2 separate regions of the Homo sapiens genome follow, and region 1 is linked to region 2. A link means that fine-mapping ties the variant in region 2 to the expression of a gene that starts in the linked region. Tissue or cell type: whole blood. Region 2 holds a variant in brackets; the other region holds the start of a gene. All regions are shown on one strand. Distances are between the middles of the regions.

What was found. PIP is the estimated chance that this variant, and not a neighbour inherited with it, causes the effect.
Region 1: it holds the start of LITATS1, and the variant in region 2 is fine-mapped to the expression of LITATS1 in whole blood (TOPMed, PIP above 0.99).

The regions. Positions count from the first base shown.
Region 1 is chr1:37,471,644-37,477,459 of GRCh38, forward strand. It overlaps LITATS1 (lncRNA induced by TGF-beta and antagonizes TGF-beta signaling 1), which reads right to left and starts at 2,800. Exons shown (of 3, transcript NR_038842.1): 1 at 2,501-2,800. It overlaps ZC3H12A (zinc finger CCCH-type containing 12A), which reads left to right and starts at 2,937. Exons shown (of 6, transcript NM_025079.3): 1 at 2,937-2,986; 2 at 3,816-4,296. The coding sequence starts at 3,854. RefSeq lists silencers at 2,112-2,211, 2,672-3,131 and enhancers at 3,782-3,881, 5,592-5,816.
Region 2 is chr1:37,535,072-37,540,886 of GRCh38, forward strand. It overlaps SNIP1 (Smad nuclear interacting protein 1), which reads right to left. Exons shown (of 4, transcript NM_024700.4): 3 at 5,086-5,684; 4 at 1-2,941. The coding sequence ends at 2,677. It overlaps LOC105378649 (a long non-coding RNA gene), which reads left to right. Exons shown (of 3, transcript XR_947190.3): 3 at 3,618-3,665. Among named protein-coding and RNA genes, the nearest start is that of SNIP1, 16 kb to the right of the region's middle. RefSeq lists an enhancer at 4,620-5,815. The variant G/A (reference allele first, on the strand shown) is at 3,459.

The DNA of each region.
Region 1 (5,816 bases), 63 kb before region 2:
AGCCAGCCCAGCTGCCAAGACAGGCATACGAGAGGCAGAGGGGTTTGTGTGGGCTCGGCTTCAGAGAACTCCTGGGGATTAGGGCCAAAGTTTGCAAAATCCAGCTGTAAACGGAGCAGGGGTTCCCCAAAGAAGCCGTGGGTTCTGTAGAGGAGAGTCGGCTTCTTGGGAAGTAGCATGAGCCGGAAGACAGCGAGACTGTGGCTCTCTCTGGGAGGGCAGGGAGCAGCATGACTCATCGCCTAGTCCTGCTGGCTCCTACTGGCACAGGGCTGGGCAGCAGAGGGTCTGGGAGCAGGAGCAGAGTCTGGTCTTGTTGCAGCTCCAGAGGAGGTCTCAGGCTGGCAAAGACAATCTAACACGTTGGGACATAGGCAGGGTGTTGTGGGGACACTTAGGAGGGTACAACCAGCATCAAAGGAGTCTTGGCTGGCCTCACAGAGGAGGTGACATCATCCAAAAGATGAATGGAACTGGCTAGGAAGCAGCTGGGTGGGAGAGAGGGAAGGGCACTCCAAGCCAAGGAAGAAGCAGAGCAGAGGCCCGAAAGTGTCTGCAAGGCGCTAGCTGGTGCCTGCCACCCAGTGAGCACTCTATAAATGGGAGGCATTATCTCTATGATTGATTAGTATTGTCATTATCATTATTAACCTGGACACATCACTTAATGTTTTTACTATCTTAAAGGTAGTTGCTATAGCGAATAAATGCTTAACATAACTGAGCTCTTCTCATCTGTAAAAGGGACTGTTGTGAGGTTAGGGGTGCCGCCGGCACCGCACTCAGCTGGAGTGACAGCAAGCATGTGAGGTGCCCAGCATGGGATGTGAGCTGGCATGCAGCAGGGGGCCTTGTGTTTCCTCTCTCCTTGGGTTGCCAAGCCCCTGGAGCTGCTGTGCCTGGGGAGCAGAGAAGGGGACACTTTGGGGTCTTCAAAGATGACCAGGCAACAAAGCAGGAACACCGCTAGGTAAGAGCAAGCAAGCCCAGAGGAACAGCCTCAGGGTCCAGATAGAGACGTACACGCCTGCCTCCCTGGGGTCTTTGGTGGCCTCCCGAACAAGCAGGTGTGGATGGGGAGATGGACTGCCTTGGAGAGAGCTACATGAGTTCCAGCTCCACCAGCCCCCAGAGCCTGAGCAGGTGACTTCACCTTTCTGAATCTCTGAACATCCATTTCCTCCACTGTACAATTTCATTAAGATACATACAAGAATATCCAAAGCACAGTCTTTGTAATAGAAAAAAAATCCTAGAAACAACATCCAACAGCAGGTGACTGAATAAGTAACCAGTGGTATATTCATAAAATGGGACACTATTCAGTAGTAAAATAAATTACAGGTATGCAGGCAATCAAAATGGATTTTTAAAAATATAATGCTGTATGAAAAAGGAAGTCACATAATTATGGAATGACTCCGTTTACACAAAGTAAAAAATAGCAAAACTATACAATATCCCACTTAGGGATGCATACAGAGGTGGTAAAACTACAAGAAAAAGCAAGAGAATGACTAGCACAATTAAAGTTCAGGAAACTAGTTCTTCAGGATGTGGGCAGGAGGCTGTGATGGGGGCACCCAGAGGGCCTCAAGGTACTGGCACTGGTCTATTTTTTAAGTTAGGTGATGGATACATGGCTTTTTTATTATTACTATTATTCTTTAAGCTGTACATGTACAGTTGTGTCTATGGTGTCTTTTACAATAAACAAGTATTTATTATAACACTAGCACTTATAGGATACATGCCTATGATGAGGTAGAGAGAATGTAACAAAGGACTGGCACATAGTAAGCACTGGTGGCATGTGGCTCTGTCCTCCAGCGTGTGGGCTCTGTGTTTTCTCTCTCTCTCTCTCACTCACACACACGCACGCACACACACACACACACATAGGAAGCCAGGCTCCCCTCTGCCCTCAGTCACTCGTGGTTCACAAAAATGGCAAATAATAGGAGCACTAGAATAGGAGCTCTCCATCCTGGTTCGAGTCTTTCCAGCTGGGGCAGTTTAGCCTTTGCAGAATTTCTCAAGGGTAACATCAGCATAATGACCTCTGTCTGTAAGCCCGTGAGTGTAAGCCTGTAAAGTGCTGTGCTCATGCGAGGGATCAGGTCTGACCTGGGAAACTAAAAGCATCTTCATGGAGCAAGGGTGCTCCTCCAGTGGGGGCGCTCAGTGAGTTCTGCGGTATGGGTGACAGTATTCTTGTGTGGACAGTATTCATGTGGTGATTGGGGTAAATGGCCCTCTTTTGCCTGGTTTTCTGCCTCGGTCATTGTGCATCTGCTGACTGAACCTGCCTTTTGGTCCTAGTAAAGTACAGATTTCAGGAAAAGTGTACCTGGCCCCGGGGGTGGCCAACCTCTGTGTGACGGCTTTAAGCACAGTGTGTCTTGAGGGGGCCTGACTCCATCTGAAAAGTGCCTGTCTGGATGTACCTGTCTATAACCATGGACCTGCCTCCAAGGTGCGTGGACCAACCTCCGCGTACCTGATTCACTCGATGCGCACCTGGCCGTACGTAGCTTCATCAGGCAGGGTGTACCTGTCAAGTTCTTAGGTCCGAGTGTTCGCGGCTTTACCTGTCCTGGTACCGCCGTCCGCACCTCGGTCAGTGCGTCCCCGGCAGGTGCGTGTACCTGATTCAGTCCGTGCTTATCTTGCGCATACGGGCCGTTCAGTGTCCCGCTCGGAGCTCGTCGCCGCCGCAGCCTTGAGGCTCCGACCCCCGCTTGGGCCCCGTCCGGCGCGCAGCGGCCGCGGGGGCGGGGCCGCGACGCGAGGAGCGGAGCAGGAAGGGGCGAGGCAGCCCCGCCCCCGGGGCGGTCTCCCGGGACGGCCCCGCCCCTTGCCCGCTTCCGCGTCAGTGCCTCACCACCACCTGCCCGCGCGCCGCCCCATATAAAGGCGCCGCCGTCCTTACCCCCAGGACTCGGCCCCATGGAGACGCCGCCGGCCGCCGCTGGCGCATGGCGGGGTGAGGCGCGGCGGGGAGGGTGCGGGCCTCGGCGGGGAAGCGGCAGGGAGCGCTCCGGCGGGGTCCGAGCCGAGCCGAGGGGAGGGGACGGGAGGGGACGGGAGGGGTGGAGAGGGGAGGGGACGGAAGGGTCGGGGTCCTGTTCCCCGGCCCGCCGGGCCTCAGGACCCCTCCAACTTTGCCCAAGTTGGGAGAGCCGGGGAAGAGCACCAGGTTCCTGATCGGGATCGCGGGCCGAGCAAGCGCGGGTCTCGGGCCGGGACAGCCTCGGCGTCACCAGCTCCCGGCAGCCAACCAAAGTTTTCCAGCAACTTTTCTCCCCACGGGTCACCCCAGAAACTTGCCCTCCCCGGCTCCGGGAGTCCGGCCATGGGCCTTGCGCTGCCTGGGCCTGAGCTCTGAGTGCCGGACGGGTGGGCGAAAGTGGTGGCCTCAGTGGGGAAGCCTTGGGCCCCGCAACGCACTTCCAGCCCCAGGATTCCATCTGAGAGCCCCGTCCCTGCCTTCTGGGTCCCCTGGGTTGGCGTGGGGGTTCGAGGCTTTACAGCTGGGGTAGTTCCAGTCTTAGTTCAGACTAAGTTCCGATCTTCGAGCCACCAGCTAACAGCTGGATGACCTTGAGCACGTTTTTAATGTCTGTGCCTCAGTTTCTCCCTTTATAGAATGGGAATGGGAATGCCTAGCTGGGAGAGCTTTTGAGAGGACAACCTGAACTAATAACACGATGCAGTGTGTAGTGCCACCAATCCCTCATCCTGCTGGATGTGGTTTTGGGAGGGAGGTTAGGAGAGAGCGCTATTCACCGTCCCTAACCCTGTTGGTTGTTCAGTAGGAGCTGTGGCGCGGGGCCTTCCAGGAGTCTGAGCTATGAGTGGCCCCTGTGGAGAGAAGCCTGTCCTGGAAGCCAGCCCCACCATGAGTCTGTGGGAATTTGAGGACAGCCACAGCCGTCAGGGCACCCCAAGGCCGGGTCAAGAGCTGGCCGCTGAGGAGGCCTCGGCCCTGGAACTGCAGATGAAGGTGGACTTCTTCCGGAAGCTGGGCTATTCATCCACGGAGATCCACAGCGTCCTGCAGAAGCTGGGCGTCCAGGCAGACACCAACACGGTGCTGGGTGAGCTGGTGAAACACGGGACAGCCACCGAGCGGGAGCGCCAGACCTCACCGGACCCCTGCCCTCAGCTCCCTCTAGTCCCGCGGGGTGGTGGCACCCCTAAGGCTCCCAACCTGGAGCCTCCACTCCCAGAAGAGGAAAAGGAGGGCAGCGACCTGAGACCAGTGGTCATCGATGGGAGCAACGTGGCCATGAGGTAAGTGTCACTTCTGTGGCCAGGACACATGAGGTTCGCATCTCTCCTGTGGCCAGGACACATGGAAGGATGACTGTCTCTGCAGCTCTGGTGGGCTGGAAGAAGTGACTTCCTTCTTAGGGACTGGTCTAGAGGGAGGGAAAGCCTTTTATGAGGCTAGGGTCGCGCTACTGGTAAGTGACAGAGGCAGGGTTCCAGCCCAGGTCCCTCTGTCCGCAGAGCTTACCTTATGCTGTGGGTCCCTCCCTGAGGCCAGCACTGTGTCTCCACTCCTCTCCTGTAATGTGAGGCAGGGCTGTAAAGGGGACCAGCCCGTGGGCAGCTGCTCACTCACCCCTCGGAACCTGATCTCAGGTGGGTGTTGTGAGGAGGGAGTGTGCGGATCCCGGAGAGGAGCAAGCGTTCAGGAACCATAGTAGTGGTAGTAGGCAGTGGTAGTAGCAGTTGTTGTTGTTATTTCAGGGGCTGGGCTTCTGAGGCCTTCTTGTCTCAGACCTGGGCTCCCACGAAAACAGGTCCAGTGACTGTGTCCAAGAGTGACCTCAAGGCTGGGTCCAGCTTTACATGGGTTGTGGGCAGGTGGCCTGATGCTCTGGCCTCAGGCGAGCTGCAACTTGGATCCCTACTGACTCAGCTGAAGCAGCCTGGGCTGGACCAGTCTCTGGAGGTTCCCCGGGGCCAGAGCCAGGACTCAGCCCCCAGTGACTCCCACCCCCATCCCCCAGCACAGGAATGGGGTGGGGAGGTAGGGGCAGAGAGGGAAGCCAGGGCTGCTGCTGACCTTGGGAAACCCAGACTTCTCCCGTCAATCCAGGCTCCACCCTCTGGCCCCACTTTTTTCCCAGTTCCCTCCAAGGCAGGCTGATGAGTCAGTGCTGGGTGGATGGCTCACAGGGAAAAGTTCCTGTTGGCATGGACGGGGAGACCCCAGACACAGGGTTGAGAAGGGATGATTTTCTGGCTGCCCTGAGGGAGCTCCTAGGTGGGCTGCCCAAGGCTGGCATGACATCAGCCTCTGCCCTCCCTAATTTGTGGCCCCTGTGGGACAAGTTCACTGTCCAGCTGGCCCTGGCCCAGCTCAGCAGGCATGCAGCTGAGTGCTCTTCCCTCCTTCTGTCACCTTCAGGCCAGTCTTCCTCTCTCTGACTTGGGCTGAGCCTGGATGGGAGGCTGAGAAAATCCAGTTTCCATGCCAAGAGGCAGCAGGTCACAGCCCATGCTTCGAGATTAGAAGGGGTCCCTCTCAGTGTCCAGCCTCATGTAGCTGGGCTAGGAGCTAGGTTGGATCTGTGTGACTCCTTCCTCTGGAGGTATGGGCCAGGAGCGGCTGAGCCCTGGGAGCAGCCATATGCAGTATGTGTTTGTATCCAGAAGGAGGAGGGACATGGGAGGAGGGGCTGTGATGAGGGGTGCTCAGAGGAGCCTGCTCCTGAGAAGCAGAGCCACGCACCCACCTCGGGGGTTTCTGAGCTGGGGTAGTGGCAGGAGGGGAATTCCAGCCTCAAACTTCCTGTCTCAGC
Region 2 (5,815 bases):
AAAAAAAACACCTTCTCAGGCCAGGCCTGGTGGCTAACACCTGTAATCCCAGCACTTTGGGAGGCTGAGAGGGGCGGATCACAAGGTCAGGAGTTCGAGACCAGCCTGGCCAATATGGTGAAACCCCATCTCTACTAAAAAAAAATAAAAAATAAAAATTATATATATAAATTAGCCAGGCTTGGTGACAGGTGCCTGTAGTCCCAGCTACTTGGGAGGCTGAGGCAGGAGAATCGCTTGAAACTGGGAGGCGGAGGTTGCAGTGAGCCAAGATGGTGCCACTGCACTCCAGCCTGGGCGACAGAGTGAGACGCCATCTCAAAACAAACAAACCAACAAAAAAACCCACCTTCTCAGATATGTGGCATAAAGAATTTCTTAATCCAGGACGTTATTCCTCTACTAAAATAAAAACTGACTAAACAATTAGGACTTCTTACTGAAAAATGTAGGCAAAGTGGTCATCTATCACAGTGCCCACCAGGATGAAGTTTGTAGCAAAACTCAAGGCTACCACAAAGTAGTGCTACTGCAGCACAGACTGAACAAGGAGATCCTAGAGTAAGATACCAGATTAGTGCTTAAACCCTCAAGAGAAAACCGTCAGTCTGGATCAAGAGAAAAGTTCATCCAAACAAACCTACTTTTCAGACAAGCACATATATATGATCTATGGCACATACCAAAATGAAGAAAATAGCAGTTACAGTGGCCAATGTAGAACACATTCTTCAACTTACCTTTTTTTTTTTTTTCTGAGACAGAGTCTCGCTGTCACCCAGGCTGGAGTGCAGTGGCACAATCTCAGCTCGCTGCAACCTCCACCTCCCGGGTTCAAGCGATTCTCCTGCCTCAGCCTCCCGAGTAGCTGGGATTAAAACAGGCATGTGCCACCACGCCCAGCTAATTTTTGTATTTTTAGTAGAGATGGGGTTTCACCATGTTGGCCAGGTTGGTCTTGAACTCCTGACCTCAGATGATCTGCCCACCTCAGCCTCCGAAAGTGTTGGGATTACAGGCATGAGCCACTGTGCCCATGCCCGGCCCAACTTACGTTTCATCTAATGACCTTATTAAGTGTTCACTTTTCAAAGGATCTTTTAACTTCTTCTGAATGAACATTAGTCAGCTGCCCCTCCCACTAGCCAATCTTTAGCCCTGAGCACACATGGGTATAAAAACAATGGAAAACAATCAAATTTAATAGTATCCTAAGTCTCAACCCAAGAGGAACAATTAGTAGTAACACTGATTGAGCTGCTTCACCACCTTTCCCCACAACCCACCTCCATGTCACCATCTGCTATTCCACTGACTTGGAGGCCAACGATATAACCTGCCCCACAACACTCTAAAACAGCTACCTACTTTTATCTCAAAAGTACTGACAGAAGGCTCCATTAGCAGCAAACAGACCTATGAACACAAGGTCCTCTACGCTAGGAAAGCATTACTCTTTGAAATGGGGCTATATTTACAAATTTTATTTTTTTATCCCAAAAATACATATAAATGAAAACCTGCTCTTCAAATGCAGGGAGGCCTTTGCCTAACATTGTCATATGAAAATCAGTATCAGCTCTTTAACACACAATTTACATATATACATACATACACACTATATGTAAGCAGCAAATACTTTGCTACTTACACATATTCCTCTGGTGGAAAACTAGGACACTGGGAAATTCCCCTGCTTTCCAACCTTGGGAAGGTAAATACAACCTCTCTCAACAACTTTTTAAAGGATGAAATGTGTAGAAACATGTAAACAACACAACCTGCTTTAGATCTATACATGTTATTAGAATAAAGAAAGAACGCTGTCACATCAGTGACAGTTTATTTCTCAAAGAAAAAAAGAGATAACATTTGAATAAAAATGCAAAACTGAAGTACAGTTAATATGATCAAAATTGTTGTGTACATGCTCCATGGAGAAATCAGGAATTCTTTCACAAAGAACAGATCCACAGCCAATTTCAGTCACTTGTGATGCTGAATCAGCACCCACTGGTAGCAACCAGGATCCTTCTGTACAGTCACGGGCTTGAGCAGGTGCCATAAAGCATCTGTTTAAGTTAAACAGTCAATAATGTTTACTGACTGCAGTACATTCCCACCCCCCAAAAAAATAAGTGCAAAATCAACTTCTAAGCTCAAGAGCTCAAACAAGTCAAAGCTTTGGTATATACTGGAGGTTGTTTTGGTGATAACCAAAGCCTAGTAAGATTCTCTGCTCAGGGGTTCGCCCCAAAAGAAAAACACCTGGTCCACAAAGCTTAACACCTATATAAATAAAGTAACTGTACAAAGAGAACAAGCCATGATTTCCCCTTAACCAAGGGTTTATAGTTTCCTAGGCAGCAGTTCTGAAAGCACCAACTAAAACCACAACACTTCTACTAAAACACGGTGTGTTGTAATTGGTGAGACTGTTCTGAAAACAAATGCCTGCAGGCATGTGGCCAAGGTGCCACAGAAAAAGTTTAACAAACATTAGTCAGTGTATTCAAATGGTAACACAATCTGGTCAGCAACAGAGGAAAGACTTAAGGCAGTAAGAGGCATTACAGAGAGCACCATAGTGCTGGACCCACCACCATAGTGCTCTCTGAGTCAATCAAAGACTTCCAAGAAGGAAACCGTGTATCAATAGTTTGGGTTCTTAGTTTGCTAGCTGTCAGACACTTCTTCCTCCTCCTCCTCATCCTCGTCATCTTTCCTGTCTATTTCAGAAGTGTCCGACGACTCATGGAGCAAGACGTATTCTCTGCTACTGAATCCAAATTTGAGTACATCCTTTTCTTTTAGTTCATAGTATCTCTGTGGCTCAATACGTTTGTTGTTTAAGAAGGTTCCATTGCCTGAGCCAAGGTCAATGATGTAGGGCTTCACTCTTCGGCCAACTGTGCCATCAGCACGGGTATATTCCACAAGCCTAGCAGAAAAAAAGGAGAAACCTGTGAGCAAACTTCTGCCTCAGATCATCCAGCTTCTCTAAAGCTCTTTGCTAAGATAGCCTAGATGACGTAAATAACCTGGCTTGAGCACAATTCAAGTTAAAATTCTAGGGAATCAAAGAAATCAAGGGGAAAGCATGGCCCTGGGAAGGAAAATTGGAAGTTTAAATATACTTAGAAAAGGTGAGAATGGACCGGGCGCGGTGGCTCACGCCTGTAATCCCAGCACTTTGGGAGGCCGAGACGGGCGGATCACGAGGTCAGGAGATGGAGACCATCCTGGCTAACATGGTGAAACCCCGTCTCTACTAAAAATACAAAAAAATTAGGCAGGTATGGTGGCGGGCGCCTGTGGAGCCAGCTACTTGGGAGGTTGAGGCACGAGAATGGCGTGAACCCAGGAGGCAGAGGTTGCAGTGAGCCGAGATCACGCCACTGCACTCCAGCCTGGGCAACAGAGCGAGACTCTGTCTCAAAAAAAAAAAAAAAAAAAAA[G/A]GTGAGAATGAGTTGCTGGAAGGTGGGGAGAATCCATGGTAGATCAAAAGGTGGAAATGCAGAATCCAATGTCTCTTGCTGTGGTTAAGAAAATACATTTTTTTCTGTTGTTTATAATCAACATAATGTTTCTTTAACCTATATTTCAATATATTTTAGTTCCTGTCCAAATGGGAAAAAACAGTGCACTTGGACTTCAGAGTCAAGGGAGCTATATTTGAGCCAGAGTTCTACTATGGCAGGGGTCCCCAGCTCCTGGGCCATGGACTGGTACCAGTCCGTGGCCTGTTAGGAACCGGACCACACAGCAAGAGGTGAGCAGCGGGCAAGCAGGCAAGCGAGCCAAACTTCATCTATATTTTCAGCTGCTCCCCATCACTTGAATTATCATTGCCTGAGCTCCGCCTCCTGTCAGATCAGCAGTGGCATTAGAGTCTCGTAGGAGCATGAACCCTATTGTGAACTGTGCACAGGTGGGATCTAGGTTGCGCGCTCCTTACGAGAATCTAATGCCTGATCTGTCACTGTCACCCATCACCCCCAGATGGGACCATCAAGCTGGAGGAAAACAAGCTCAGGGCTTCCACTGATTCTAGATTATGGTGAGTTGTATAATTATTACATTATATATTACAATGTGATAGTATTAGAAAATAAAGTGCACAATAAATGTAATGCACTTGAATTATCCCGAATTCCCCCGGTTCCATGGAAAAACTGTCTTCCATGAAACTGGTCCTTGGTGCCAAAAAGGTTGGGGACCACTGTACTATAGTGATCATTTGTTAGGCAAGTCACTTGGTTTTGCTGGGCTTCAGTCTTCTCATCTGTCAAATGGGGATACAAATACGTGTCCATTCGAAGTCAGGAGACCATGTTAAAAAACAAACAAACAAAACGGGCCAGCCGCAGTGGCTCACACCTGTAATCTCAGCACTTTGGAAGGCCAAGGCAGGCGGATCACGAGGTCAGGAGTTCGAGACCAGCCTGGCCAATACAATGAAACCCCGTCTCTACTAAAAATACAAAAATTAGCTGGGTGTGCTGGTGTGTGCCTGTACTCTCAGCTGCTCGGGAGGCTGAGGCAGGGGAATCACTTGAACCCGGGATGCAGAGGTTGCAGTGAGTTGAGATCGCGCCACTGCACTCCAGCCTGGGCACAGAACGAGACTCCGTCTCAAAAAACAAAAAATCTATCCTATCCTTCTCACAGGATTGTTGTGAGAATCATCACAGATGTCCCATGCAAGCTATCAAGATCCAGTTTCAAAATTAGCTGGGCACAGAGGCACACGCCTGTGGTCCCAGTTACTCAGGAGGCCGAGGCAGGAGACAATCATTTGAGCCCAGGAGGTTGCCGCTGGAGTGAGCTGTGTTTGCTCCACTGCACTCTAGACTGGGTGACAGAGTGAGACCTTGTCACAAAAAAATAAAAAATAGATTAAAAGTTTAATGTTCTTATAAATATGTAAGCAATTATTTAAAGGGCAGTTAGATTAACAATACTCTTTAGATAACATATGAGGGGTATGGGATTCTTCTGCATAAACATGAACAAAAATCTTAGTAATCCTAACTGAGTGATTGTTTCTGCTCACATTACAGTTTCTTCCTCCATGTTACTTACCGATATTGAAAGACCGCATGCTGCTTTGAACAAGACGGGTGATCAATTGGAATGTCTGCAATGCGGCGGTGTCGACCCAGTAGGTACGCACTCTGTCGATGTATGTACATGACTGGAAGCACCTCATCATTTTTAAATGGGTAGAGACGCCACCGTTTTTTGGGGATACGTGCTTCTGGGGGCTCACTATATTTAATGACTACACCCCGGAAAGTGTTGGTGTCCTCAAGAAGTGCCCCAGAAAGTTCAAAGCTTGGTTTTTCTTTAGCGGGCACCTCTTTTTCTTTGTTGTTGCCACCAGGCCGAGGAACCAACTCCTGAGACTCACTGCCGCCACCACCAACGTCATTCCTCTGGCGATGCTCCCGTCGCCTGGCATTATAAAACTCCCGCTCTTCTTCCTGAGCCTGCAGGTTCTGAGTGTCTCGATCCCGTCCCTGACCCTGCCCACTCCCAGGCCTCTCGTTAGACGTTCTCCTTTGGTGGGAATGGCCCCGGTGTCTGTCCCGGTCACTGTTCCTAGCTCTCCTGTGTTCCTGTTCTGATGGTTCCCTGTGCTGCCGATCCTCCCGTCCTCTCCGGGGATGATCCTCACGCTCCTAAAATTCAAACAGATTCTGTAATTTAAACGCAGTGCACAATCTAAAGGCAGCCCAAATCTTGTTCTTTTTGAACGAAGTGCATGCAAAAAGTCTTGTAATTTGGACTTTGGCATTTAGAACAACATTTC